2 separate regions of the Homo sapiens genome follow, and region 1 is linked to region 2. The links come from fine-mapping of genetic effects on gene expression. A gene starts in region 2. The other region holds a variant in brackets. All regions are shown on one strand. Distances are from middle to middle. Region 1 overlaps PCDH1 (protocadherin 1). Region 2 holds the start of PCDH1 (protocadherin 1).

Region 1 (14,646 bases), 26 kb before region 2:
AATGAAATATACATGTGCTGGGAAGGTTTTGGAGGGATCTTGGCCAGGAAAGGGTTCACGAGAGCAGCTTTCCTGAGTGTAGCATTTTGAGGGTTGGGGGGTAAGGAGGGCATTGGGCATATGGAACAGCTCCAAGCCACATGGAGTCAAGCGCATATGCACAAACACAGCTCAGGGACTTTGCCCTTCCCAGCGCTGCAGCCCCATGAAATATTTAGGTTTCTGGACGCTGCTCATCCCTTATTGTCCCCCTCAGCAAGTACGCTTCCCCTACATCATTTATGGCTGTCCCCTTTCCTCCCCTCTGAGGCCTGCAGAGAAGGGAAAAACAGACCCTAAACTGAAGAAGTGTGTCCCTCCAGACCTTGTGGGCAGAGGGCAGGATCCCAGCCTCATCCCCTACACGGGGACACCATAGTGAGTAGCCCTGGGAGCCAGGCAAGGGGGATGGGTCCAGGAACTGAGAGGCAATTTGGGCCCCCAAGAATGGAGAAGCAGTGGCAGGAGGAGGGGATTGGAAGATGCAGCTGTCCTGGCTCCAGAAGGACCCCGGAGAAAGGACAAGAGTCTGGAGTGATGATAAAAGCTGCCATTTATTGAGCCCTTACAATATACCATGCTAAGCAACTTACGTGCATTCTCACCTTAAATCCACACTGCATTTTTGGAATGTATTATCCTCATCTCATAGTTAGAAAAAGTGATGCACAGAGAGGTTAAGTAACTTGTCTGAGACAGTCAGCCCGTCCAGCTCCAGACCAAACTCACACACACACACACACCCTGACCTGTGTGGGTATGTGGAGGGGAGTCGTGCCAGGCCAGCGTCCACCCTACTCTCTCTTTCTCCCCAAAGACAGGGCTCCTTTCAGTATAATCCCCTCCCCCTGCTCCTCCTCCACTCACCAGTGGATTGGCCTAGATTAGCAATCCTATATCCTTTATCTGTTCCATACACAAATATTGGTGGCCAGAGGTCAGGAGACTCCCAGGAAGGGGAGAAAGGAAGGTGAGGAGCTAGACAGGGTGACCAGGAGAGAGTGAGAGTGAGAGCTAGAGCTAGAGACAGAGATACATGGAGACAGACGAGAAGGGGCAGAGTAAAAAGCAAGTGGGCGTGAAGGGGTGCTAGTGGCAGCTGGGAGGCTGTTAGAGAGACCCATCAGCCTGTATAGTCACAGCCCACCCCATCCACTGGGTGGCGATAGGATGGATGGCAGGTGGTAGAAGGAACTCCCACCCCCACCTTCACCCAGCTTTGTCTCCACCCACCCTCCCCCTTCACACCCCTGCTTCTCCTTCCCCTCCCCGACTGTCTTCTCCGGAACAATTCTGATTAGACTAAGTGACTAAGAGGTGGTTTCGGCCCGAACAGCCAATTAGGCCAGGAAGAAGAGAAAGTAGCTTCCCCAAGTCTTCCACCCCTACCCACCCACCCCCATCTGCCTTTTTCACCTAGACCAAGTATTCCTATCCCAAGACTACAGACTGTCAAGAAAGTTCCCTTGATTCTGCCCACTCCTTACTGCCCACTGTGCCCCGTTACCTGTGTCCAGACAGCCCCTAATCTACTGCTTAGTCCCCACCCTGAGCTCCTCCGTCCTCAGGGCCCGAATCCACTCACGTCTTCCTGGCAGGGTTGTAAGGAAAGGGTAGGGCTCTCCTTGGGAGGTTATCTTTCTAAGTCTCTTTATTTCTCTTTCTCCCTTCTCCCTCTCCCTCTCTCTCTCCTCTTCCTCTGGCACTTATTTCTAACATCCGTGGACCAGGCCTACTGGTTGCCATGGAGACGCACGGTGCAGCTGGATGGTGAGTGTGTGTGAGAGGAGCTGTGTGCGCTCTGCAGCAGGGGCGGGCGGCTGTGTGTGAAATGTATCCATGTTACAGGAAGCATTCTTTGAGGGGGAATCAGACAGGGATCCAGGCCGCCTCCTTGAAGTGAGACCCAGGCCAAGGGGGAAACTCTAAAAGGCCTAAGCCCCTAAACCCCTTGGTCATCTTCATCTGGGAAACATCCACCCCTTGGCCCCTGCAGGTCAGATACTAAATTCTGTTTCATCCAGGATCTGTAATGGCAGATTCTGGAGGGGCCCTAACCTGCCCCGCCTGCCCAAGAGGACTAGGAACCCCAGAACCCACTGGGAAAATAGCGGGCTGAGACCTGTCCTGAAACTGGGAGGGGGGTTGGGGGCAGCTATAGAACAGGTGGAAGATTAAGCTGGACAGATGGGCTGACTGATGAAGCCCACATCTCCCCAATATTACTCCAGGGGATGGGGTTGGAGGGGAAGGGGTTTGGCCCAGCAGGATGGAAACTCCCCTCCATTTTTTTCTTTTTTCTTGAGACCGAGATTCAATCTTGTTGCCCAGACAGGAGTGCAATGGTGTGATCTCGGCTCACCGCAACTTCCGCCTCCCAGGTTCAAGCGATTCTCCTGCCTCAGCCTCCCGAGTAGCTGGGATTACTGGCATGCGCCACCATGCTCGGCTAATTTTTTTGTTTGTTTGTTTGTTTGTTTTGAGACGGAGTCTCGCTCTGTCACCCAGGCTGGAGTGCAGTGGCGCAATCTCGGCTTACTGCAAGCTCCGCCTTCCGGGTTCACGCCATTCTCCTGCCTCAGCCTCCCGAGTAGCTGGGACCACAGGCGCCCGCCACCAAGCCTGGCTAATTTTTTTGTATTTTTAATAGAGACGGGGTTTCACCATGTTAGCCAGGATGGTCTTGATCTCCTGACCTCGTGATCCGCCCGCATCGGCCTCCCAAAGTGCTGGGATTACAGGCGTGAGCCACCGCACCCGGCTGTATTTTTTTTTTTAGTAGAGACGAGGTTTTTCCATGTTGATCAGGCTGGTCTCGAACTGCCCGCCTCAGCCTCCGAAAGTGCTGAGATTACAGGCGTGAGCCACCACACCCGGCCAACTCCCCTCCATTTCTACTCACTTTGCCCAGAAGGTTAGAAGAAAAGAAACCCAGGTAACTGCCCTGAGGAATCTTAGCATCTTAGAGTACTGTGGCTATGCTCTTTTCTCCCACTTCAGGGCCTTTGAAGGCAATTTCCCTGCAGTTTCCTTGTATCTGGAATGTTCTTTGCCAAGCTCTAAAACTTCAGGGTTATTTTTTTTTTTCTCTTTTTTGAGACAGGGTCTCACCTTGTTGCCCAGGCTGGAGTACACTGGCCAACCTTCAGGTTTCCTCAGGGAAGCTTCCCTGGCTGGGTAAAGCAGCCCCCTCCCCTCCCCCACCTCCAGTTATCCTCCTTCTTGTCCCACTGTTTGTTTCCTTCACAGCACTTTAACACAATCTATAATTATCTCATTTATTTGTTTATTGTCTGTCTTTTCCTCTAGAATGCAAGTTCCCAGAGAGAGAGAGTAGGCATCATGCCTGTCTTATTCAGCACCATAATGCTAGCACCTGAGACAGTGCCTGCCACTTAGTAGGTGTTAGACGTGTGATAAATAAAAAAGTGGACAAATTATCTCATTGAAGCCCCACAATAACCTTTGGTGATGGTAAGCACTATTATCCCCACCTTACAGAGGAAGAAACTGAGGCTCAGCCACCTACCCAAGGTCATGCCACTAGAAATAAGTACAGCCAAATTTCTAACGTAGGTCTCTCTGACTCCAAGTTTGATGGAAAGTGGGGACCATTCTTTTGTTTGTTTTCCGAGATGGAGTCTTGCTCTGCTGTCCAGGCTAGAGTGCAGTGGCACAATCTCGGCTCACTGCAACCTCTGCCTCCCGGGTTCAAATGATTCTCCTGCCTCAGCCTCCCAAGTAGCTGGGATTACAGGTGCGCACCACCGTGCCCAGCTAATTTTGATATTTTTAGTAGAGATGGGGTTTCCCCATGTTGGCCAGGCTGGTTTCGAACTCCTGACCTCGTGATCAGCCCACCTCGGCCTCCCAAAGTGCTGGGATTACAGGTGTGAGCCACCGCGACCAGCCAGGGACCATTCTTAACCAGCCTAAACTGCACCTGGTTCCTCTTCCTGTCTGCCTGTGTATCTCCACTCCCAACCCAGGCATCCCCAGAGAAACCTGGGGCAGGGAAGGGAGGAACACAGAATCTGGAAGAATGTAAATCTGACCTTTTCTTTTACAGGCTTAAAATCTGTAAATGGCTCCTCTCCAACCCCTCAATCCAAGCACTTTAAGTTGACCAGCAGGTCCTTAGTTCTGGCCCCTGCCTTCTTCTCCAACTTCTCCTGCCCTCCTGAGCCACCTCACCTCCTCCTCCACCTCCAGACCCTGGCACATACTCCTCCTCAGCCTGCAAGGCTGACCCCTTCCTCAGTAGCCTATCCCTCATTTGCCCTTTGAAACTCAGCTCTGGCACCACCCCTTCCAGAAAGCCTCTAGACTTTGGAGAGGACAGCGCCTTTAGGTCTCCTGCCAGAATTTCCGGCTCAAGGCAGGGCCGAACACAAGATGTGGTCATTGTTTACCTGTCTGCCTTTCCCACAGAGACTGTGTGTCATTCTTGGGGTCCAGTACCCTGTGCCGGTCTGGCACATGGGAGGGGCTCAGGAAATGTTTGTAGAATGAGTTAATCAACCAGTGACAGGATTCTGGTACCCAGTCGGCCACCACATCTCCTCCAACTTCCTTAACTCCAGACATCTTTTCCTGGGCTAGGCCTTAACAGAAGGAACTCCTCACCCTTCACTGTGGGGTCAAGTCAGGGGTGGAGACAATGCGGGCCCCTCCCCCGCTGATTCAGCGCCTCTCCTAATGAGGTGAGGCCTCAGGTTTAGGAAGGGTTGCCACACCCACTGGTAGGGGGAGGGTCTGTGATTCTGTAACTGGAGGATAGGTAGGGGGCTTCGGTTGTAGACTGAGTAGGGAGCTGACCTAAGCCGGTAGATTCAAGTACTGCCCGAGAGATCTCTGCCTTTCCGCCCCACACCCCAGTCACCCCGCGCCAGGCTCTCGGCGCGTCAGATCCCGGCCCTGCGTTCTTCATCTCCTGCCCCGCCACGCCCCCAACTGCAGATCCAACTCGGGTCTCTCCGAAAGCAGCAAGGAGCCTCGGGGTGGGCTCTATGCCCCGTGATGCTCCGCGTCTGGGAACGGATGAAGGGGTGCCAGCAACCCCCGCCGTCCCCGCTGTCGATCCGGGTTTACACGAGGCTCATCCGGGATTAGTCCCTGCGGTCGGCTAATCCCAGCGGCTGGACCGACCCCGGGGTCCGGAGCGAGGCCCACACAGTACCGGCCTAGGGAGCTAGGGCGCGGGTCGAGCAAAAGCGCGCGACGCTGGGCGGGTGTGGGGGTGGGGAGGGGCGGAGGAGGGAGCAACGCCCCGGGAGGCGGGGCCAGGAACCGGCTGATCCGGTCTCTGTTTTCCGACCTCTCCGGAGCGGGTGTTTACCCGGGAGCCGGACGGAGGAGGCCGGGGCCGGTCGAGCCCGGAAGGGGGGAGGGGAGCGCAGTCGGAGACCGAGGCTGAGACCTTTTCGGTTCCTTTCCCCTAAATCGACTTCCAACCCTCGTTCCTGAGCGTGGGAGAACGCGGCAGACAGACAGATGTCTCCCGCCCCTTATCCTATCCAGTTCCGCAATTCACACTCGTTGCCAAAGAGTGGGGAGCGGGAATGGATACACCCGGGAACGACTGCACGTCCTGCGGGCGCCCGGGGAAGAAGGCAGCGCAGCACAAAACCTCTCCTGCGGTCACCTCCCACCCCATCCTGCACCTGAGTTCTTGCGGGGAGGGGGTGCCCACAGCAGGTCGGGCCCAGAGGATCCGGCAGGGGTCACTTTGAGGTGTACGGACTAGGAGTCTATCCTCAGAACGCGTCAGCTCGACCCCATCCCCGATTAATACCAGTGCGGGTCTCAGTCTCTTGTCCCTCGCGTCCCCCAGCCCTCTCCAAGGCCTCCAGATTTAGCTCCCACTCTCCACGGGACGCAGGCCCGAGGACCCGGAAGAAGCTGAGTGGGGTCCGGTTTTCACACTTTTATTGTAAAGCTCGGGAATAATTACACGGGTCTTTCATTGACAGCTCAGCAAACAAACCGGAAACGAACCGAACCGGAGGGGGTAGGGGCGGTGCCTGCGCATGCTCGCGGCGGGGTGGGGGGGGGTGGGGGTGGGGGTGGGGGGGTCAGAGAAAGAGAAAGACAGAAAGAGACAGAAATCATTACAAATCAACGGGATTGTGCTCGCAGCGCCAGGGATGGGGTGGGGTGGGGCGGGGCGGGGGCCCTTCCCGGGAGGAGCGAGGCAGTGGGAAGTGGCACGAACCAAGAGAAACACGACCCCAATGTGGGCACCCGACGCGCCCAAAACCCCCCACCCCGACCCCCACCCCCCTACACACGAGAGAGACACGGCCCCCCTCCCCACTAGATAACCCGAGGAGACACAGTCTCCCCTCCCCATGGGCAGACACACCCGCCCGAAACCCCATGGGCGGGACACAGTCCCCCCTCCCAGAGAAGTCCCCAGTGGAGACGCCCCTTAAGAGACTTTCTCATGGCCAACACAAGCCCTCCCAACACCCGGAGACAGCCCCGACCCAGGGAAGAAATGGCTCCAGAGGCCCTACCCTCGGGAGAGAGAGGTATCCCAGGGCTCCTAGGAGAAAAGACAACTCAGAGATGCCCAGCCTCATCCTAAAGTGCTGCAGGGCAGAGAAACCCCCATAGGAGAGATGGGGGTAGGGCCAGAAACATCCCTTCCCAGACGTGTTTCAGAGATAGCCCCCTTCCCTGGGAAGAGAGATGGCCCGAAACTGACTTGCCTTAAGTACTCCCAGGAACCCTGGGAGGAAAACAGGCTCCCCAGAGAGCCTGGGTAATTGGGGGAGACATGCTCCCGTGGTCCTCAGCGGGAACACATGTCCCCCGGAGACTCCCAAGGGGAGAGATAGGGCCTAGAGAGACCCCAGAGGTGAGGGATGCCCAGAGAACTTCCCCCCACCCCGGAATGTGAAACATGCTTCAAGGACCCTAGGAGAGAAATATGTCCCCATATACCCTCCCCCTACGGAGAGACATGCCCTGAAGTAGGGGGATGGGGACCGACTAGGTCCCCTCTGGGAAGACACAGACTGGGTCAGGCTGGGTTTGAGGGGGGCTCTCCTCTGGCCAAATGTCGCCTATTGGTACATAAAACTGTACGCGACACAGGCATTGGGGAGGGGCTTCACAGACCTAGGACCCACAGGGATAGTCCCCAGTGCTGTCGCCAACCCCTGCCCACCTTTGGTTTCATCTCTCCAGTGCCCAGTTGGTGACAGACTCAGTGCCCTGGCCCCAACCAGGGGGCTGGGGGCTCTGTCTTTGCCTGTGGGAAGGGCTTCTCAGCTCTCCCAGCCATCTGGGCCACCCTCTTTCTTCTGGCTTCTCCATTGTGCAAAATGCTCCTCTGCTCTTCTGCTCAGTGCTCAGGGGTCTCTAAGACCAGGGCAAGGTACCCAGGCCACTAGGGGCTTCCAGTGGGAGTCCACTGACCCCAGGAATGCCGCCTGTCTGGACCACCTTCTCCACCAAGCAAATGGGCCTCATACAATCTTCTTGCCCGAATCCTGACCTCCAGGACCCAGGACAATCCTTGAGGCCACTGTTCCACCAGCTGGGCACCCAATACTACCAACTCCAAGACTATTGCACCTGCCCCATTTGTGCAGGGGAAAGGGGCTGTCTCTTTAACAAGCCCCAAGCCCATCTCCTGGGCCTCCCCAAGGGAAAGGAGCCTTTGGCCAACCCCTAGACCTGGCTGCTGCCACCCCATCCCATTCTACCCCTTCCCCTCTGTAGAAGGGCTTCGTATGCCAGGGCTACCAGCCTAACAATGCTCTCCTTCCTAGCACTGTCACCCCAAGCCAAGTTGGGGGTAAGGGGCAGATAAATAGGGTGATTCTTCAGGCCCCTGGCTTTTCCGGGGTGGGGGTGGGGTCTCTGGGGTACAAGAGTCAAGACCCCAGCAGCACAGCTCCCAAAGGCACCAGACGACCCCGCAGCCTGTACCCACC[G/C]CTCGCAATCTTGGACCACCTCCCCAAGCTTAGACTAAGTCAAGCAAGGGCCATACCCTGAGTCTCCAGCCTCCCAGCCTGGGCCCCTAGGGAGCTGGAGAGGTATGGGCCAAGGCAGTGGGGGTTTCTGGAAGGAAGAGGGGCTGAGGCTTTGAGATGGCCACAGTGGGAGACGGGGGCTCTGCAGGACGCCCCTTACACCCTGGCCCCCTGAGGTGAAGAAGAGAACTTCACCTCATCATGGCTGACTGGGCTTCTCTGCCCCCCAACCTCCCTACCCCCTCCCCCATGGGACCCCTGACCCTGACAAAGGGAAGCCCAACTGGAAGAAGGGGGCCTGGAGCCCAGGGTGCCCTGAGGCAGCCCTCCCACCCCCTGAGATCAAGGCAATGGTGGTTTTACAGGCTGACGGGTCAGTCATGGCAGGGGCTGGGGGTTGAGAGGGCAGGGAGGGGGCAGGATGCAGGCCCCCTATATCGGGAGCAGCACCCAGCCACCCCCTGAGCAAACCTTCCTGCTCCCAACTCACCCAACCAGGCCAGAGGCACAGTCATCCCACCCCTGTCCAGCTGCCCCCCACAGCCTCAGGGCCCCTCTGTGATGCTCATCTGGATGTGGGAGGCCAGCCTGAGCGGGGATCCCCCCAGGGCACAGCGCAACAGTTCCAAAAAAATAGAGATTTGTATTTTTAAGAAAAATTAAATAAAAGCCCAGCTCTGCTGATAGGCAAATGTTACCCCCGTCCCCACCCCCACCCACCCGTTGTTTCCCTGGCCTGCACCCCCATCCCACCATGGCCCCAGGGGTATTTACAACATGGAACAATAGAGGCCTGGGTTGGGGGGCACTGCGGCAGGGAGGAGGGGGCACAGGGCAGGTCCCCCCCCAGAGGGGTCCCCCAAGACAACACGACATCAACAAGAAAAGTTGCAAATCAGGCAGAAATGGGGACGTCATTCCAAGGTCCTTATATACAGACACTGCATGACCAGCAGGGAATGGGGGCCCAGATGGGACTAGGCGTGGGCATGTGGCAGGCAGGTGGGCCAGTCCAGGAGCAGCACGGGAAAACAAGGCCTCCGCTCCACTCCCACCCCCGTCCCTACCCCACCTTTGGTAACAAAAGCCCTTCAGGGAGCCACTGGTGGTCAAGAGTTTCCTCTGGGAGCTCCCAGGGAAAGGGGCTCCCCAGTTCAGCCCTGCTTCAGGGCTAAAATTGGGCATGCTATCCCCGCCCTGGTCGGCCATGAGGGAAACAATGAGTTAGAAGTACGCTGCCCACCCTTGACTCCACCATCTGCCCAAATCGAGGGGGTGCTCCCTGGAAGTCAAGGGAAGGAGCCCAGTCATTGCAGAGGAGCCCTCTTGGGCATCAGATGGGGGAAGCCCCATAAAGGGGAAGGGGCCCCTGGGGGCTGGGAGATGGAAATGAGGGGAGAGGACCTGGACCCTGCATGGGAGAAGGGCCAGCGTGGTCATGAGGTCAGTGATACCCCCACTTGGGGCCCTGGCCAGGAAGTCCACGCTGAAGGGGTGGAGAGTGAGGCCCTGGAATGGGCCATTTGGGAGCTGGCCGGCGGCTGGGGGAGGGGGGCCGGCCGGCCAGTAGGGGGCTCACAGGTAGATCTCGCGCTTGGCCGTCTGGGCAGATGCCGGTGTGGCTGCGGGTGGGAAGTCCGAGGTCTGGGTCAGGGGGATTTCCTCCAAGGTGGCCGAGTCCTTGCAGGAATCATGGCTACTGTGGGAGAAGGCACTGTAGGAGGGCAGGAGGCGCACGGGGGCCGTTTTGGTGTTCCGGTCTTCCGGGGGGCTGGGGCTGCCGGCGCCCGCAGGCTCCTGCCCTCCTCGGTCCTGGTAAGGCACGAAGGTGGAGAGTTTGAGGGCGCTGCTCTTGGTCCGGCGGCTGGGAGATGACTGGCCAGGCATCCAGCATGTGTCAGAGTGGCCAAACTCACTGCACTCCCGGGTACATGTGCCTGTCATGGCGACATCAGGCAAAGGGCGAAGGTCTGTAGGAGGGAGCGGGGAAGGACAATTGTCAGACATACAGCCTCTGCAAAGCTCTGCTTCATGGCCTCCCACTGGCATCTACACCCCACCTCAGGACAGGAGTATGCGCCCCTTCCTGACCGCTGAACTCACAGGCACACACACCCTCAAAGAGACACATGCCCTCCCACCATCGACCTACTGGCCTACTGTACACACGCACACGCACACACACATAATCTATCTTTTTTCTTTTTCTTTTTCTTTGTTTTGAGATGGAGTCTTGCTCTTGTCACCCAGGCTGGAGTGCAATGGCGCAATCTCGGCTTACTGCAACCTCCACCTCCCGGGTTCAAGCAATTCTTTTGCCTCAGCCTCCCGAGTAGCTGGGATTACAGGCGCCCACCACCATATCTGGTTAATTTTTGGATTTTTAGTAGAGATGGGGTTTCACCAGGTTGACCAGGCTGGTCTTGAACTCCTGACCTCAGGTGATCCACCCACCTTGACCTCCCAAAGTGTTGGGATTACAAGCATGAGCCACCGCACCCAGCCTTATCCTTTTTTTTTTCAAGACAGGGTCTCACTCCTGTCACCCAGGCTGGAGTGCAGTGGTGTGATCTTGGCTCACTGCAGCCTCAATTTCCCAGGCTCAGGCAATCCTCCCACCTCAGACTCCCAAATATCTGTGACTATAGGCATGCACTACCATGCCTGGCTAATTTTTTATATTTTTTTGTAGAGATGGGGTTTAAGCCATGTTGCCCAGGCTGGTCTTGAACTCCTGAGTTCAAGCAATCCGCCTGCCTCAGCCTCCCAGAGTGTTGGAATTACAGGCATGAGCCACCAAGCCCTAAATAGACACATTCCTTCCAGCGTCACCTACCCCCCAGTGCTCTTCTTACACACCCACCAAATCTGCCCTCAGACAGGTGCACAAACACACACTCATCTACACACTGCCTCATCTATCTCCAGACAGACTTAAATGTGCAAATCTATCCTCAGGTGGGGTTGAGGAAACCTCCATCCTCATTGAATTGATTGACACAATCAACTCTCTCTCTCTCTCCCTCTCACACACACAGATAGGCATGGATACACAAATCTACTACAGTGGGCACCTCTATCCTCAGATGAAATTGGGTACATTGCTTCCTTCAGAACCCCCTCAAGCTTCACATGCTCCCGGTGGTCCTGAACCCACCCTCCTCCTGCAAGACCTTGCTTTAAAGCCAGGGGGAAGGGACGAGCTTCTGTGTGGGGTATTCACATAGAGGCACACACTCACATCCACAAGCACGCTCATGCAGCCCCTCCCCACCTCACTCTGGCCCCTAAACCAGCCACCACCCCTGGCCTTGCCCCAGCTCCCTGCCCAGAACACCCACGGGAACAGGAGTTGGCTGCCTGACATCAGCAGTAGCCGGTGTAGTTGCTGGGCAGCGGGGGTCTCCATGGGAACGGCTGGGCCATGAGTACTTCCTGTCACAGCTGTCCCTGTCCTGCCCTTGCTCAGGGACAGCACCAGGCAGTGACCCCCCCCCACCCCCAAGGGACATGGCTAAGCAACACTGCCTGGGACAGGGGCTCCCCTGGCACCACCCACTATGGCTTGGCCTCCTGCCAGTGCCAGGTGAGGAGGGGACAGCTCTGTTGTTAACCCTCAAAGTGCCAAGGCTCTACAGCTCAGAGCAGAGTTGGGGGACGCAACATGGCTCAGAGCAGAGCATGGGCACTGGGTGGGTGAGGCTGGGTGCTGGGCAGAGTCCCACAGACCCCAGACCCCAGAGCAGTTCCCACATACCTGGCACTCTGCCTCAGGGCCTGCTCCGGCCAGCCGGCTCTGCGCGGGCACAAAAAGGATGAGACGGGCATGAGATCGCGCATGGAGGGGCGGGGTGGGGGTGGAGGGCACTCTGAGACCTAGGGCCTGGGAGGTTAGACAAGGGCCCGGGAGGTTAGACAAGGGCCCTGTGCCTGAGGCAGGGGAGTGAAACCTCCCATCTTTTGTGGAGCGAGGAGGCTTTGAGTTGAGGGAGTGGGTGGGACCCGAGGACAACTCCAACTTAGAGAGTCTTTCCATCTCAGGGGTTAGCTCGTTCACTCTCCCCCTCCACAGGCTGCCATGGACGACTTCACACATGCACACGCACTGCACACACACTGACGGCACACCTCACCATCCATTCCCATGCCGACCTCTGCGCTGGCTCACACCTCCTTTTTGCCATCACCCTCCAAATCCCTCCCAGACAGGCCTTTCTCTTCACCAGACCTCCTACCGCGCTCTTCCTCAAAGAGGTGCCAAACCTTCTCCCACTCCTCACCCCAGCATATCGTCACTCCATTCTCTGAGCCCCCTGTAGCATCCAGGGCCCAATCTCTATTCTCAAGGCCTTCCCAACCTTAGAGGACCACCACCCACCTTCTCAAGGTTTCCTCACCATTACGTGAGCTTTCTGGCCACCACACTCAGGGTCCCTGTTCCCAGGTGGCCGTGTAAACATGGTGCCGAATGCAACAGCTTTGGAGTCAGAGAAACCTGGGTTTGAATCCCTCCCAGGTCTGTCACGTTCTAGATGTATGACTTTGGGCAAGTGACTTAACCTCTCTAAGCCTCAGTTTCCTCCACTGTAAAGTGGGTGCCATAAAGTTCTCAAATCACAGAGTGGTTCTGGGGATTAAATGCGTGTATACCTGAAAGCCCTCAGCACGGTGATGATGACTGAGCACATAATAACTCAATACATAGATGATTTGTTTAAGGCCTTGTCACCATTCCCAGGCTTCCACTCATTCCTGGGGTGCCCTGACCATGGTGCTGCGCCTCACCATTCTCGGGGTGCTCCATCTCTCCTATGCTGCCATCAGGGGTGGTGCGCTCATAGTGATCCTCAGGCAGGGCCAGGGGACCGAGTCGAGGCCCTGAGGATGACTTGCTGGACGGCGTCTCAGACTCCTCCAGGCCACTGTCATAGTAACTGTGCTGGGATGGGTCCTGCAGCTCCTGGGCCTGGCTGGTGGCCGAGAAGGTGACGCGGCGGTGAGGTAACTGCAGGGAGACAGATTGTCACTACTGACCAGCCAGCTTGCCCACAGGGCCCACCACCATACCAGGCCCTAGTACAAGCCAAGCACCATCCTACTCAGGCTTCAACAGCAACCAAGAAGAGACCCAGGCCCCAGCACAGCACATTCCTCCCGAAAGCACAGGCCCCAGTGAAAGACAGCTCCTGAGTTCTAGGACCGCTCCTAGTACAGCCAAGTCCACATACTGGAAGTCCCAATACAGCGCAGGCCCCAGTGTTATTATAGCCCCTATGCTACCCCAATAACCCTCATCCAGTGCAACCGCTTGTTATAGCACAACCCTTCTAGTTCTAACCCAGCTTCCCAATATTGGCACAGCCTCCCTTTAATCCCAGAATGACCTGTAATACGGTGTAGAGCCCAATACCAGAGTAACATAATACCACCCGACTCCCCTAATTCCAGCTCAGCCTCTAAACACCAGCATAGCCTGCAGTTTCTAGAACAGCTTCCTAAAAGAAGCAGACTCCTAACTCCCAAACAGCTCACCAATACCACAACAGTTAGTTCCCTCATTTCCAAACAGCACCCTCCAAACTCCAGCTCCTCACCTGTCTCACTGCTCTTGCCACTGCCTCCTTCCAAATGAGGGAACAACCTTTCTTTTCTTATCCTGTGTTCCTCATCCCTGGTTTGTGATGTTGCAGCAGTCTGAAGACTCCCTGCTGTCGCCCCTCCCACTCAGCCCCCCATCCCCACTTCACTCCCCTCCAGAGAGGCCTGGGAGTGGAAAAAAAGGGAGGAGCCTGATAACAAACCAGGGCACCTGGGGGAAGGGGACAAAGCAGAACAATGGAAACTCCCCAGTCCTCCCGATCAGGAAATAGAATATTCACTGGAGAGGGTAGGGCTCTGCCAGGAGCCTGGACATGGGGAGAGGGCATGGCACCCATTAGGGATTAGGAAAGCTGGTCTCAAAGGGAGACTCCTTCCAGGAAATAGGAAGGAGCTTCTGGGAGGGCTGCTGGCATGAGGAGCCAGACTTGGAGGCTTGGACTGGGGACTGGGGGTCGGGGGAGTGGAACCGTGACAGGCTGCTCCCAGCCAGCAGCCCTGTATGCCTGCCACAGGTTAACGATCAGCCCTGGAACCTGGCAATCTCAACTTGGCACTTGGCACAACCAGCCAGCCACCCAAATACCCACTTGGGACTGCCACAGATTTTCCTGCCAACCAGAAATTAGGAGTTGTGGAGGGTGCAGACTCAGGGTCCCTGGAGGCCAGGGGTGAAAACAGCTAAGCCCAGGGCCCTGCTGATGAGTCTCTAAGCTCCTTCCCATCCTCCAAGACTTTGGCAGTGCTTTGTCTTACTCTATAACTCTGGATAGGAGGTTATGAAGATGGCCAGGGGAGGTGGCCCTGGCTTTGTAGACTTACCCTCCTAATAGCCCCATTCAAGGCAGCTAGGGTGGAAGAGGCTGTCAGGACAGGAGTTTTGGAGCTGCTGTGAAGGTAGCCCAGAACTGCCTCCCCACTATCCCCATTCCTGAAGATGGCTCCCACCTCATCTTCAGGAATAAGCGACCGTTCTTGGAATCCTTGTATTGATCTAAAACACTGAAGGGTCTGGGTGATGACT
Region 2 (14,646 bases):
AAATCTTTGGATCAGCAGTTTCTTTGGAGGCTTCTGGTTCAGTCTCCTTTCCCCACTTCCTCACTTTTACCTGGAATACCTTCCCCACACCTGGAACACCCACCCCACATCAATCCCACTGAGGGCAGGCTCTGGCCCTCCAGGAAACCTTCACAGTCCTCTCCTGCCCACGGTGACCTCTCCTTCCTCCAACTCACAGCCACTTATTGTCTGCTCCAATCCCAAGGCAATGAATCATGGGGCTGACTGGGACACCGCCCGCCTGTGTTGTTCAGCTTCAGTATTGTGCACCTATTCCTGAGTTCTCTGCCTTTCCAGGCAAACACAAAGCACTACGAAGGAAGGGACAGTACTCTGTACACTCACTCATCCCCTGCCCCCTAACAATGCACCTTTGCACATCTGGGTACACTGTAGGGACTCAGTCATGCATTCAACAAATGTTTATTGGGCATTTACAATATGCCAGGCTCTGTCCTGGGCACTGGGATGCAGAAGTAAACAAGACTGGTCCAATCTGCCATGACAGTGCTTCTAACTCAATGACTATTTGTCCATTTTGTTTGGTTGCTTCTGTATACCATTTGGCGAATGTAAGGCAGCAGGGTGGAGAAGAGCGAGGGTTGTGGCATTAGACAGTCTGAGGCAAACCCAGCTGCTCACTTCCTGGCTGCATGACCTGAAGCAAAGATTTAGTGCCTCAGTTTCCTTACCTGTAAAATGGGGATAATACTACCTATTTCCTAGGGTGTTTGAGATACTGTGGGCTAAATGTGGGTACTCAACAAAGGACTCCTTCAAAGCATTTAGCACAATTGTAGTTGTGTACCTGTTTGGAAAATGTGTTAATTGTCTGTCTTTGCTCCAAGATGGTGAGCAGAAAGCAGGAGAGTTTCTACTTTGTTTGCTCCTACCTCCTCAGGGCTTAGCCCTGGACCTGGCACACAGTGGGCACTTGGCAGCTCTTGAATGACTGTTGTTATTTTGCTCTCTAGGCTTAGCCTTTCCTGGTACTTGCTGTGTGACCACTGCTCTTTTACTTGCTCACTTACCCGATTCCCCTACACCACTAAGAACTTCCTGGGGTAAAATGTAAGTCTTCTCTGTTTAGGGCACATAGTAGACTCTCAGCAAATGTTCACTGAATGCACAGAGTCTTTAGATAAATCAAACACATCCCCTCCTCTGTATGGCCTTCCCCAAGCACAGGCCCCTCCCTAAAGTGTGTGCGGCGTTATCAGATTGGTGTGAATGTTAATCTCTTTAAAGGAAGCAGGAATTTATCTGTACTCCATTTGGATCCACCCCCCACCCCCCCCCTCCACCTGCATGGACCTGGCACAAGGCTCATCTGACTACTTCAACCCCAACCCAAACACATCGTCAAAGGACCATCACCAGAGAACCTCATTTTCTTATGGGACTGTATCCTGCTGCCACCCTCCTCTGCATATACAATGTGGTATCACTGTGCACCCTAATTCTCTACAAAAGTCTTGGCAGGTGAGGCGTTATGTGGGAAGCCCACGGGAATTACCCTAAACCTGACCAAGAGAATAAATAAGGCAGTCACTGTTTGCCTCTGTTCTCTCCAGATCGAGGATACTTAAGATAGTTAATCTTCTGTGGTCACATCCTCCTTCAAGAATTTTATAAAACCATGGTACAGATTTTTCCAGGAAAAATGACTGTTCACAAATTTTAGCCGCTAATTCAGGGGGCCATGATCTGGCAGTCAGGGCGAATGATGTGTGGCCACTCCAAGAGCTACGAATTAAGCCCCTGCCTCAGGCTTCCTCCATCTCACAGTCACAACCTGAGGCCCTATAACCTTTCAAACCTCCTAGGCAGAACAGGCACACATGCTTGTGAGACTACCTCCGCTCCCCACACGCTCTTTCTCACCCTGAGGAGTTGTCTTACCTTCAACCAGCAAAAGAACCAATTAAGGACTGTGGTATCTAACCTCTGAATTGGAAAGAGAAGGAGAACCACAGGATAATATCCAGCTCAAGGAAGGTATGGGATGGCGGGGCTGGGGAAAGGTCCCAGAAAGTAGGAGGAATGTGGGGAAAACAGGGTTGGGGGAGAGTTGCTCACAGTGGGGAAAGGAGTTGAAGAGGGCTTAGGCCTTTCAAGCATCTGGAGAGTTTCTTCAAAATGAGGATTATCTGGCCCCACCCTTAGGAATCTTTATTCAGGAGGTGGGACCTAGAGAAACCCCCAAGCAATTGTGATGCAATGGTCGGACCATCTGGGTACAACTTTGAGATAATTCCAGGGAGTTAAGAAAGAGCCTGAGGTCCTGCAAACTCTTTTTTTTTTTTGAGACAGAGTCTCACTCCGTTGCCAGGCTGGAGTGCAGTGGTGCGATCTGGCCTCACTGCAACCTCCACCTTTCGGGTTCAAGCAATTCCCCTGCCTCAGCCTCCCAAGTAGCTGGGACTACAGGCACGTGCCACCACGCCCGGCTAAATTTTTTTTTTTTTTTTTTTGTATTTTAGTAGAGACGGGGTTTCACCGTGTTGGCCACAATGGTCTCGATCTCCTGACCTCATGATCTGCCCGCCTCGGCCTCCCAAAGTGCTAGGATTACAGGCGTGAGCCACCGCGCCTGGCCCGGTCCTGCAAACGTTTTTTTTTTCTTGAGACGGAGTCTTGCTCTGTTGCCCAGGCTGGAGTGCAGGGGCGCGATCCCGGCTCACTGCAAGCTCCGCCTGCCAGGTTCACGCCATTCTCCTGCCTCAGCCTCCCGAGTAGCTGGGACTACAGGCGCCCGCCACCATGCCCAGCTAATTTTTTTTTTTTTTTTTTGTATTTTTAGTAGAGACGGGGTTTCACCGTGTTAGCCAGGATGGTCTTGATCTCCTGACCTCGTGATCCTCCTGCGTCAGCCTCCCAAAGTGCTGGGATTACAGGCGTGAGCCACTGCGCCCAGCCCCTGCAAACTTTTATCATCACCTTTGCCATCATAATCACTCATCATCATCATCATCTCAGCAAACACTAAGATTTTATCAGTACTAAGCATTTTACACACATGATCTCTTTCCTCCCAACCCTCTCAAATGGGTAGTATTTATTATTACACTCCTTCCCATACTACAGATGATCAAATGGGGGCTGAGAAAGAATAAACTGTCTTAAGTCACAGAAGTAGTATGTGGAAGAACCAGGACTTGAGAAACAAGAATGCCTCTTCACATCCCAGAGTCTGGGGGAAAGAAACAGAAATATCTGAGGCTAGAATCTGATTCCTGTTATGTCACACCCGCCTCCCCACCATTCCTGGACTGCCAACCTTGCCCCGTAAGGAGGGAATAAGAAACAGTGGGCCTAAGGGTCAAGGAATGAACCAGCCCAGGCTTCCTAGGCTGCTGCTGTTCACCCAGGGGCCCGTAGAAATGCAGGAAGAGAGCCAGGGTGGCCTGGAAGGGCAGGAGCAGCAATAAGGAGGCCTTCCCTCACCCGTGTTCCCACCATCTCTGAACTTTGTCCCCAGCAGTTGGGCACTGGGAGTCATTAATCCCACACAGCAGCCTTTGATACATGCAGCGCCTTATCTGCCCTTCCCCGGGCCCTGGCTGCCTTCCTGGGCAACGGTGCCCTACCTCCCCCCAGTGACATGGGCACCCAGGACCCTGAGAAGCCAGAGCCTGAGGGGGAACAGGCGCAGGGACCCATGTCCCTCAGATAGAGGAGCAGAAGTGCCGTCAGGGGTGTAGGAGTAAGGGATAAGGAGGGGACGGAGTCCCAGAAAAGCTGAAGGAAATACTGTCTGTGTCAACATCTGGGAAGGGATGAGAACAGAGGTGAGAGTTCACCCGGAAACTTCACTTCCAGCCCACCCCGGGGACCAAGGTCCATTTTGCTGAGTGCTGTGGCCAGAGAAAAAACACACAGAGGCAGCCACCACTGTCCCAGTAGCCAGGTCAGCTCTGACTCCCCACCCTCACCCCAGCACTGTTACACAACGGTCACTGCCGCGGGCACAAAACACCAAGGGACAAACGGACTGTCGCGGGGAGAGGGGAAGAAAATGGGGTTGCGTGGGGTGGAGCTGAACAGAAGCCTCCCACAGAGAGCAAGTGTGCAGACCTCAGCTCCTCTCCCCTCTCTCCCACAACCCTCTATTAGCCTCTGCAGGGCTTCTGGGCACCTGCATGTCAGATCGTTGGGGTTAGAACCCTCGCTCCACCACTTCCTAGCTGTGTGACATTAACCAAGTGAATTTACTTTTCTGAACCTGTTTCCATACTGTGAAATGGAAATAATGAAACCTGCCTCTTGAAATTATTTGGGAGAATTAAATGAGATCTCATGCCTATAAGGTCTATTACATTAAGGTCTATTTACATTACATGTAAAGGACAAATCATTTTTTTTTCTAAGTCTTCTAATTGCTGAATAGACCATTTTATTTCCAGCATCGGGCACACAGTGGGTGCTCCTTGGTTCGATGAATAAACAAGCCAATCCCCTCGCTGGTTGGTAAGTCCTATGAAGGCAATGATGGTATGTCTCTTACTACTGCATCCTCACCACCCACCATGGACCCTGGCAGATAAAAGGTGCTCAATACATTGTTGAACAGAATCTCTGCACCAACTATCCTTGCTCACGGCAGGGGCAGCCCTCACCTTCTTCTTTCCCTACACCCCTCCCCGAACCCTGATTCCCACTTAGCTCCTCCCCCACCCTCGCGGCCCCCTCCTGGCCCTTCAACCCCCTTCTCAGCAATTAGCTTACTATCGCTTGCCCAGCTCCCCTGCAGAAGTAGCCACAGCAGCAGCCCCTCTGCTAAGAAGATGGCAGACCAGCAAGACACCCACTTCCAGCTGAAGTCCCTTTTGGAATTGGGAATTGGAGGTGGGTAGGAGAAGGGGTAAAAACTAAATGCGGCCAGAACTGAATCCAGACTTGCCTCCCTATCACACTGCCTCTGGCTACCTCTGGGGGCCAGTCTGCCTCTCCCCTCGATTCCACCCCATGCCCTAGTCTAGTTGTAATTACAGGTTCCAATTCCCCCAGACCTTAACGTCAATAAAGTAACACCCACCTACTCCCGCGCCCCCCACCCCCTACAAACACAGCTAGACCTCCGGCTTGTCATAAAAACTTTCTGGGCGGCCCCTTCCCTGGCAGCTCCCGAGGGTTGACCCAGAGCAGGTGCTAGAAGCCTCGCGGCGTCTTCCTGCACGAAGCGACCCAAGCAGCCCCAGTCCGCACCGCCTTGGTCAGCGGGCGCTCCCAGCACACACCCAGCGCGCGGAGCGACTCCTCCCAGAGGACGCCGAGTGTGTGTGTGTGTTGCGGAGATTAGGGGGTGGCGGGGGGGACGGCGGCAGTTTCTTGGGCTCTGGCGGCCCCACCCCCACCCCGGCAGCGCCCAGCCTCCAGGAACCCAAGGCAAGGCTAGGGCGCGGCGTGGTGAGAACGCGCTTCGGCTAGTGGGGGGAGCCCTTGCGCCCCCCGCACCCAGGCCACCGCGGGGAATCCCTCCTCCCCGGCATCTCCGGCCTCGGCCTAGGGTCCCCCGCAAGCCGGAGCCGGCGCGAGCGGCGCAGCGGGCGCCAGGAGGGGGCGGGGAGGGAGCCGGCGCCGGAATCACAAAGCCGCGAACCCGGCTAGGCGGGGACATTCTCATAAAACCGACCCTCTCGTGGCGAGCAGAGGGGGTTTTTTGCCCTACGCTCAATCCTCCAAGGCCTCAGTGCCGCCCCCAGTCTTTCCTGGCAGAAGAAATAGTAGCCGACCACTGTTGGGGAAACTGAGGCCAGAATTCTGACTTACAGAGGGTAGCTGGGGGGAAGGGGTGCGAGACCACCTCGCCTACAAATTCTGCTCCTATGCCTGCCGCGATCTCCGTTCTGGCTCCAGGGCCTGCCCGCGCACACACTGGCCTACAGCGGGGACCAGGCGGAGGGGGCGCTCAGGTGTGAGACGAACCCAGGTGTGCGGGACCCACCAAGGTGTGTGGGACCCAGGTGTGCTGGAGACCCAGGTGGCTCAGAAAACTCAGCTAAATGGCTGGAAGAGGGTCGCAATCACCGTCCCAGGCTAGCACCCTCTACAAAGGAACCTGGGGCCCCAGAGCTCCGGGGAGGCGGGATGGCTTGGCCAGCCAGGTCCAGCTTGTTCCCGGAACACCAGCCGGTTCGGCCCGGGAGTGGGGGTTGGGGAGGCGCCGACTGGGAAGCCGGCAGGCCGGCCCAGCCTTCCCGCTGTGCCGATATTTACAATAATAATGTCGCGATTAACGTGGCGGGGCGCTTGGGGCTCGCCGAACGACCCCGGCGGCTTCTCCTGCCTGAATCTGGACTCCGAGAGAGAGGAACGGAGTGTGTGTGTTTGTGTGTATGCGCTGCAGGGTGTAATGTAATGTGACACTGTTGGTTTAAGGTGTGTGTGACACCCAGTGTTAAGATGGGTGAAGCAGTGGATTCTGTGTTTGTGACCGTGAGGCGCTGCTGTAGGTGCCAATTCCTGTGTTAGAGTGTGTGCCATCAAGCGTGTGCTGAGATACTGGGTTGTGTGTTTGTGTGGGTGCAGTAGAGGGGTGCAAGGAGACCTGTGCTGTGTACCTATGTTCTGGCCAAGAAGTGGGTAAGATGATATATGCTAGGGTGTGTTCCTTAAAGGAATGTGGGGGGTGGCTAGGTTTTGAGGGTTCATCTAGTGAACTGTGGCTGTGACACTCGTACATGAGGGCACGAGATTGTGTTTGTGTGTCCACGTCGCGGGGTGTCACACCCGGTTGTGTTATTGCTCTGTAAAGCCACGGGTTGTGTGTCGGTGCTGCTGATCGTGCAGACACTGAAGCGGATTCTGAGCTGGCGACGGTGCCCCAGTGGGCGCTGGTGTGCGGGAGGTATGTCTGTGTGCACATATGCAGGGATGTATGTATGTGTGTATATATGTCCACGGTCTGGCCCTCTGGGTGCCCGCGAGAAGCTGGAAGCGGCTGAGTGAGCCGAGGTAGTTGCCCAACAAGTGTGTATGTATGTGTTGTGGACAACGGTCCTTGCTTGCTCCGTCCTCCGGGAGACCCCCACCAAACTGGGGGCCGCGCGCTTCCCCAAACCCATCCTCCACGCCGCGCGCTCCTGGAGTCTCCTTATCCCCGTCTCTCCGAGCGCGCCCAGGTTTGGGACGCGGGGACTAGGGTTCTGCTCAGCACCCCCTCCCCTCCCTCGGCTTCTCGCCGCGGACCTGGGAGGACGGAATCCCTCAGCCGCATCCCCTGCTATGGGCTCCCAGCAGCCCCCACCTCAGCCCCCTCGCGCCGAGCTCGTGTTGGGCCCCCGCGGCCTCGCTCCGCCGAGCGCCCCTCCCTCAGCTCCCGCCGGCCATGACCGCTTCGGGCCCCAAGCCGCTGCTGCCTCCACCGCCGCCGGATCCTTACCCGCCTCCGGGCAGCGCCGGCCGCCCGCCCCGCTGTCCATGAGCCGCCGCCGGCCCCGGCCTGGGCTGCGGCTCCGCACGGCTGGGGCTGGAGCTGCAGTTCGGGCTCCGGCTCCGGCTCCGGCTGGCTCTGGGCGCAGCAGCCCGGCGGCTTTGCGTCCGCGCCGCGCTCCCGCTCCCCGAGTGTGTGAGGCGGCGGCGGCGGCGGCGGCGGCGGCGGCGGCGGCGGCGGAGCCAGCAGAGAGCGGAGCGCACAGCCCGGCCCGCCCCCTCCCTCCCCCCTCCCTCCCGGCCCGCCCGCCTCCCCGCCCCCCCTCCGGCCGGGAGGTGGAGCTCGGGACCGCTCCGGTCCGGCTGGGAGGGGACCCCGAGCACCGCTCCCCAAAGCCTGGACCCCTCCCTCTGCCATCTCTTCACTGCCCGAGGCCCAGTACACAGGCCGTGCCCTCCTCTGAGCTTCACCTTACACTTATCCCACCCAAGCCTCCATCTAGGACCGCTCCTGGATTCCCCTCCTTACCCTACTCAAACACCTGTCCCCAGCTCTGTCTGCCCCCTGGGAAGTCGAGGCAAGGGAAGTGTCTCCCACAGCGCCTTCTTCCCTGGGCACCTGCTCCTCCATATCCACCCTCTTCCCGCCCAGATCCCCGATCGCCCTGTGTGGCCCTCCCTTCCCGCTGCGCTCGGGGAAAGTCCACCCCTCCCCCTCCGGCCGAAGCCGCAGAGCGGTCAGCCTCGGTGGCCGCAGCAAGCCGTGGGGGTGGGGCTATGGAGGGGACCGTGGGAGGAGGAGGCTAATGGGACCCGGGGGCTCTAGAGTGAGGATGGGGAAGATACACAAGCGTGAAGACGAAGTGCTGCTCCTGAGCTTAGGCTATTCGAGGGTCCCCTGATCACCTGCCCTCTGCACGGCGTAGTGCTGCGGCCACACGTATTTGCCAGTGACTTACATTATACAGTCACCGGGTCCCTGCCCCGCGAGGCCGCGCAGTGTCACGGCCTGTGTCACACGCCCTCGCAGTGCCACACGCTCCCTATCACACTCACACCAAATCACACACGGTGTCACACGCAGTGTCTCACACACTCCAATACTCGGTTTCTCCCATTCAGCTCTGGCTCTCTGGCGCCATCTAGAGGTCTCTGAGTAGCTTGGGAACTCCCTCTCCTGCGCTTGCGGTTTGGTAACCCAGGCTACCAAGTGTCCCAGTTCAACAGGACCTCCTGCCTTCTTCGCCTGCAGGCCCAGGCAGAGTGTTCTAGGTCAAAAGAATGAGGAAGGTTATCCCTAGCCAGGCCTAGTGCTGGGTGAGGAAAGGCTCTTGTTATGGGATGACCAGTTGTTGGGCCTCTTTTTGCCATAGCCTCTGACTCCCCATCTCTGTCCTTCCCCATTTTCCTGTTCCTACCACTCTTCTGTGCCTTTCCTCTTTCTTCTACTTCCTTCTCTTCTCAGCTCTGGCCTCTCTCGGTGGGATGCTCTTCAGGGTAAAAGTGGAATCTCTGGTTAGCTAAGAGGGCAAGCAAAGTCTGTCCAAGATCTCTCCCAGAGCAGCCCTGCTTAACTGGACTCCTTTTCTGACCTGGGCTCTGCTCTATCCCTCAGCCCCAGGAGCCCAGGGGCAGGGCTCTAGATGGGAGATGGGGTAATCTGGTGAAAGAGGGGGGTGGGTCTGTTCTGTAAGTAGCTTCTTTCTGTCTCTAGAAAGCTCATACTCTCCACATCATTGAGCACAGCTCCGAGGAGGGAATCAGTGGCCCAGAGAGAAGAAATCTTCCACAGAAGAGCTGCCCCGGTCTCCCTGCCCCCAGCGTGTGCCCGCTGCCCAATGCAGCAAACCCTCCCCAGTCTGCTTGCTGGGAGCCATTCAAAGGCTCCTCTGTTCTCCTCCCTTGCTCAGGGCTGAGCAGGATCAGCAGCCGCAGAGCTGGGCAGGAAATGCTAATCTCCCAGATGTTCGCCTCCATCCTCCCTGCTCCACCACCATCAAACTCAAATTCTGCACCAAGTGGTAGGAGCAGAACTGGGCCACAGCAGCAGCACCAGGGTGTGCCTACTCTTCTCCCTGCTCCCCAGCCCCTCCTACCCCAGCTGCCAGGCTGGGCTCTGTGCCCCTGAGTCAGGGACAATGTAGATATGAGAATTGGGGCCTTTTTTCCCCAGGAAAGAGGGCAGGTGAGCAAGCAGGGACTGGGAGGATGGTTGGGGAGCAAGGGAGGTGGCATTTGAAGAGGAGAGAAGTCAGACTTCTGGCCCTGTACCAAAGTGGGAGGAGGACCTGCTTGGCAAGTGAAGCACTGGGGGAGGCTCCTGAAACTGATGGTGCCTGAGTTCCAGCTGAGACTGTGGCCAGGGATTGGAACCAGGGTGATGCTGGGTATGGGAATGGTTGGGGTGCTTGCTGTGATATCCGTGTACCTGGGATGGGCTGTGGCTAAGTGAACTAGGATGCTGTAGGGCCTGGAACTGTAACACCAAGGCTGCTGCCTCTGATTGTACTTAGGACACTGTTGCAGTGCTCTGATGCTGGTGTGCCTAGGCTATAGCCAATAAGATTACCTGAGAAACTATCGCCAAGCTGTGTGTATATGGGTGTGTGTGTGCATGTTGAGGGAGAACTGTAACTGATAAGCTGTTGGGCCTGAAGCTATAGATATGAGGCTGGCACACCTGAGACTGGCTGTAGCTGAGAAGCTGTTCCCTGTTAATATGATGTAGATGGGACTGTAACTGGATCCATTGCCTAGGTCCTAGGAGATGAGAGGCTGTTGCGAGGAGCCTGTACCTGGGAGACAGGCTGTTACCTGGGATAGGAGCAGAGCTACTGTTGTGTATAGGACTGTAGCTGAGCTGCTATTGGTCCTGGAGCTGTAGCTGTGATGACAGCATACTGGGGATTGGCTATAGCTAAGATGCTGTTGCTCAGAATTGTGGTTGGGCTGTTACTGTGTGCTGGACTCTAGCTGGGATGCCTGCAGCTATAACTTTAAAGCTTGGGTGTAGCTAGGAGGCCATTTCCTGGTAATTTTGCTGGACCATTGTTGTGTGGGGGCTGTGGCTGAGACTCTATTGTTTAGGAGATGACAAGCTGTTCTGGGAGGCAGGATACTACCTGAGATGGAAGCTGATGTACTGTTGGAGCTGATCTACTGTTGTGCATAGGGTGGTCCCCAAGTGGCTGTTGCTGGGTCAGTGACGAGCTGGGTGGGGGAAGCCAAGTGAGTCCTGCCTTGAGGTCTGGGAGATGCCAGGAGCTCTAGGCTGGGTGGGGGCTGCTGCTCTGGGGAGGCCTCAGCAGCTGCTCTGCTGTGGAGCTGGAAAGCCTGTTTTCATTACTGTTTTAACTCTTTTTTTAACCTTGTTTTTCTCTCGGCTGCACTTTCGCTCACTCATTAATTTTGGTATTTTTCTCACGGTGCCTCAGCCCCTGTCACGGCTGCCATGGCAACAGGAGGCAGTGTGCTCAGTGCCAAAATATCTGATCAAAAAATAACCAAAATAAGCAAACACCAAGACGACTGTTCTGGGGACTATGGTCAGGGAGAGCCGATGGCTCAGATCCAGGAAACCCTAGGCTCCAGGGTACCTGTTTCACTACCCCTCTCCCCCAGGGAAGCTTTGCTGAACGTTCTGATAACCTAGAAGGCCCCTTTCCAAGGAATCCCCCACAGCACAATCTCCCAGGACTCTGAGATTTCCAATAGTTCCTGTCCAAGGGGCAGCTTTGCCTGAGGTGGGAGCATCGGGAGAGGGTGAGGGCTGGGGATCACTTCCCAGGAGCTGGCAGATGAAGCTTCTAAGAAGCTCCCTCCCTGCCCTAGCCACAAGCATCCGCACTCACTCATTCACCCACCCCTCTTCTGGCCCTTCTTGCCTTAGGCTTATCTCCCTTTCTGTGCACCCAACCCCCACTAGGCCACTTTTGTTTTCTCATAGCCCAACGTTCTGATGGGATGAACAGAGGGGAGGAAGCTGACAGTCTCCAGCCCCCTACCAACTCCTCAGTGGAGGTGCCAGAGAGGGGTACCATAAAAGTAGCTGACATTCCGAGGCCTCTGCCCACCTCTAGCTCACCTTCCTAGGGGAGATTCCTGAACATCCCTGACCACTCACACCGCACTCCAATTTTCCCTCCCACTTCTTGGGAGCCTTCTAGTTCCCTGGAGACCTCCTCTCAAGTGGGCATGTCCCCAGGAGGGGTAAAAGGATAGAGCCTCACATAAGTTAGAAATGGGCAGAGCTCTTGGTACTACCTGTCTCTTTTCCTTCTTCATCCACCACTTTCCCCTCTGAGGAGGCTTGTCTAGATGTCTGGAGCACTGGGAATTGGGGGAATGAGGAGGAGCCCCTCAACTCTGTCTCAGTCACATCACTTAATCACACCTCTCCTTCTGCCCCACCCCTCTGGCAGTGAAGGCTCACTCCCAACAGATCTCCACCCGCTTCCGGGAATGGCCAGAACTCGCCTCCTGCGTCTCTCTTTCCATTTCTATCTTCCCCTCCCCCCAAGAGCTGTAGTGGCCTTGGCCTCCTGGCAGTGCCTTCCCAGCCTGTTTCCATAGAAACTGGGTAGGCTGTGCAGTGCAAGAATCGGAGGGGAGACAGGAGCAGGAAGGAGGGACCAAGCCTTAGGGACAGCCCCCGATGAAAGGACCGAGAGAAACGGGGAGCTGCCCCATGCAAACTGAGGGTGGGACCCCGATTTGGGGAACCAGGCGGGATGGAGCGTGGAGTGGGGGGAAGAGGTAGCAAAAGCTTGGTAGCTGGCTTTGCTGCCTCCTGAGGAAGGGGCACAGAATCTCCCCTTCCCTGCCACAGGTAGTGGGGGTTCCTCCCTCCCCACCCCCTTAAAATCCTTCTTTACCAGGAACTGCCTGATCCAGATGAATCTCTTCTCCGGGGCCCACTAGTCTCTAAGAAAGGGACCATGGAATTCCTTTCTTCCCCGAAGAGCTCCCCACTCTCCCTGACCAGAGTCTCCTTGATCTGGAGGCTGGGCAGCCCCCGGGGACCCGGTGGCCGCCGCTGACCCCGTGGCATGCGGCTCTCAAAGGCCCCATTCATCTCTGGGGGCTGAAGGCGCCATTGTCCCCAGCGGGGGGTGGTGTGGGGAGTGAAGGGGTCTGGACTCAGAAGGAAGGAATGCGTCTGGAGAAGTTGCCCCCGGGGCTCCAGTCTCAAGGTCCCCACCAGATCTCCATCGGGACCCTTTCACGACCCCGAGCCCTTTCCCCAGGAGCTCCCAGCAACCTTCGCGCTTCTCCGGAGGGTGGGGTCTGCCGCGGCGCGGGGGCAGCCTCACCCCACCTCACTGCTGGACTCCGGAGAACCATTTCTGGGACCGGGAGCTGTCCAGCGCCTCGGGTCCTGACGGACCGCTGATTCGCCTAGGTGCCATCGGACAAGCGGGTGCTCAGAGCCAGCTCTGGTGGCTCGGGAGCTTTCCCCCAACCAGGCTAAGACCACTAAACCACGCCTGGCCCGGATGAGCTTGGATGCAGCTCCGAACGTGGGGATCCATCGGTGCTGAGAACTGACCTAGGGAGCACCTTGACCCCTGCCCTATCTGGGCACAATTGAAGGGCCAAGTGCCACCAGCCCACTTTCCTGGAACCCTGTCTCAGACTTGGGCAGGAAGAAGAGCCATGAGAGGTCAGGCCTTGCCTCTCCCCGCGTTCCCCATCTTTCTCTGTGCCTCTGTTTCTGTTTTCCTCCGGCTCTCCTCCCTCCTCCTCTCTTTCCTTCCCTGCTGGGTTGGGGGCTGCTGAATTATCATTTCTCAGCTCTGCTAATGTGCTCCCCGCTGCGGGAAGGGATCATAATTCTGGGAGATGATTAAGTTTCAAATTGTTTTTCTTTGTGTTGTTGAAGATGAGGCTTTAATATGGTCCTTCCTCAGCCCGGGAGCCTGCCCCCATTCCTCCACTCCTAGTACTCTCCTCACTAATAGGCTAGGTTTGGTACCATGTCTTTTGTGGTCCTTGCCAAACTTTTATGTGTATGGGGTGGTAAACGAGAGGGGTATAGACCTACCCTTTACTCAAAGGGGAATTTTTTTGTTTTTGTTTTTTTTTGTTTTTTTTGAGACCGAGCCTCACTCTGTCGCCCAGATTGGAGTGCAGTGGCGCCATCTCAGCTCACTGCAACCTCTGCCTCCCGGGTTCAAGTGATTCTCCTGCCTTAGCCTCCCGAGTAGCTGGGATTAGAGCTGCGCGCCTCCACGCCTGGCTATTTTTTTATATTTCACTAGAGACAGGTTTCACCATGTTGGCCAGGCTGGTCTCGAACTCCTGACCTCAAATAGTCTGCTCGCTTCAGCATCCCAAAGTGCTGGGATTACAGGCATGAGCCACTGTGCCTGGCTAGGAATACATTTAATATAGTGGTGAGAAACACTGGTTTGGAAGTCGGACAAGTCAACATTTAAATCCTGACTCTGCCACTTACTACTCAGGTGACCTTGGATGAGTTACTTGAACTGTCTGAGCCTCCGTTTCTTCATCTACTAAATGGGGATACTGTGAATTACCTCATGGAGTGTTGGTGAGGATTTAAAGTGATAAATCATGTAAAGTGGTTAGCCGGGTGTACAGCTTATGGTAAAACTCAGTGAATGTTAGTAGATATTACTACCCACATACCTTACCCTGTTTGATCCTGCTTCCCATAGCCTTCCTGACTTTGTTCTTCTGTTCAATGTTTATCTAATGCCTACTGTTTTCCAGGTACTGTACAATAGAGAGTAAGTTATCCAGGAGTGAGGAAGTTGGCTTTCTTACCTATTTGTTCCTCAAACACCCCTTCCTTTACCTCCTTCCTTCCTTCCTTTCAACTGAAGTTTACTCTCATTTTACCCTCCCACCGGCTTCCAGTTCTTCCTGCATTGTTCCTACTCCATTTTTCCTTCTTTCACTGATGTCTTATCACTTCACTTTGATTCTTATCCTCCTAATACACATACATTTTTTCACCTTCTACATTATTCTTCATCCCATTTGGGGCCATCATAGTGAAAAAAAGGGCTGAATTTTCAAACTAGGAAAGAGAATTCTGTCATGCTGTGTGTATGTGTATATGTGTGTGTGTGTGTCTGAGGAACACACACATTAATTCACATTCAACAGTAACTCTATAGCTGACTTCTGAACTCCTACGTTTGAACTGTGTGCTTGTTTGCCTCTCTATCCCCTCTATTTAAGCTCTTAAAATACAAGTCTATTTCTTTGCCTGCCTACCTGTCT

Evidence for each region. PIP is the estimated chance that this variant, and not a neighbour inherited with it, causes the effect.
Region 1: its variant is fine-mapped to the expression of PCDH1 in whole blood (INTERVAL, PIP 0.94).

Annotation. Positions count from the first base shown.
Region 1 is chr5:141,844,443-141,859,088 of GRCh38, forward strand. PCDH1 (protocadherin 1) reads right to left here. Exons shown (of 5, transcript NM_032420.5): 4 at 12,810-13,029; 5 at 8,648-9,994. The coding sequence ends at 9,600. Among named protein-coding and RNA genes, the nearest start is that of PCDH1, 27 kb to the right of the region's middle. RefSeq lists silencers at 1,662-1,956, 5,234-5,483 and enhancers at 2,334-3,155, 3,912-4,468, 4,584-4,673, 5,027-5,583. The variant G/C (reference allele first, on the strand shown) is at 7,986.
Region 2 is chr5:141,870,818-141,885,463 of GRCh38, forward strand. PCDH1 (protocadherin 1) reads right to left here and starts at 7,593. Exons shown (of 5, transcript NM_032420.5): 1 at 7,406-7,593. The coding sequence starts at 7,445. RefSeq lists enhancers at 2,066-2,788, 5,891-6,575, 6,842-7,591, 11,621-12,503.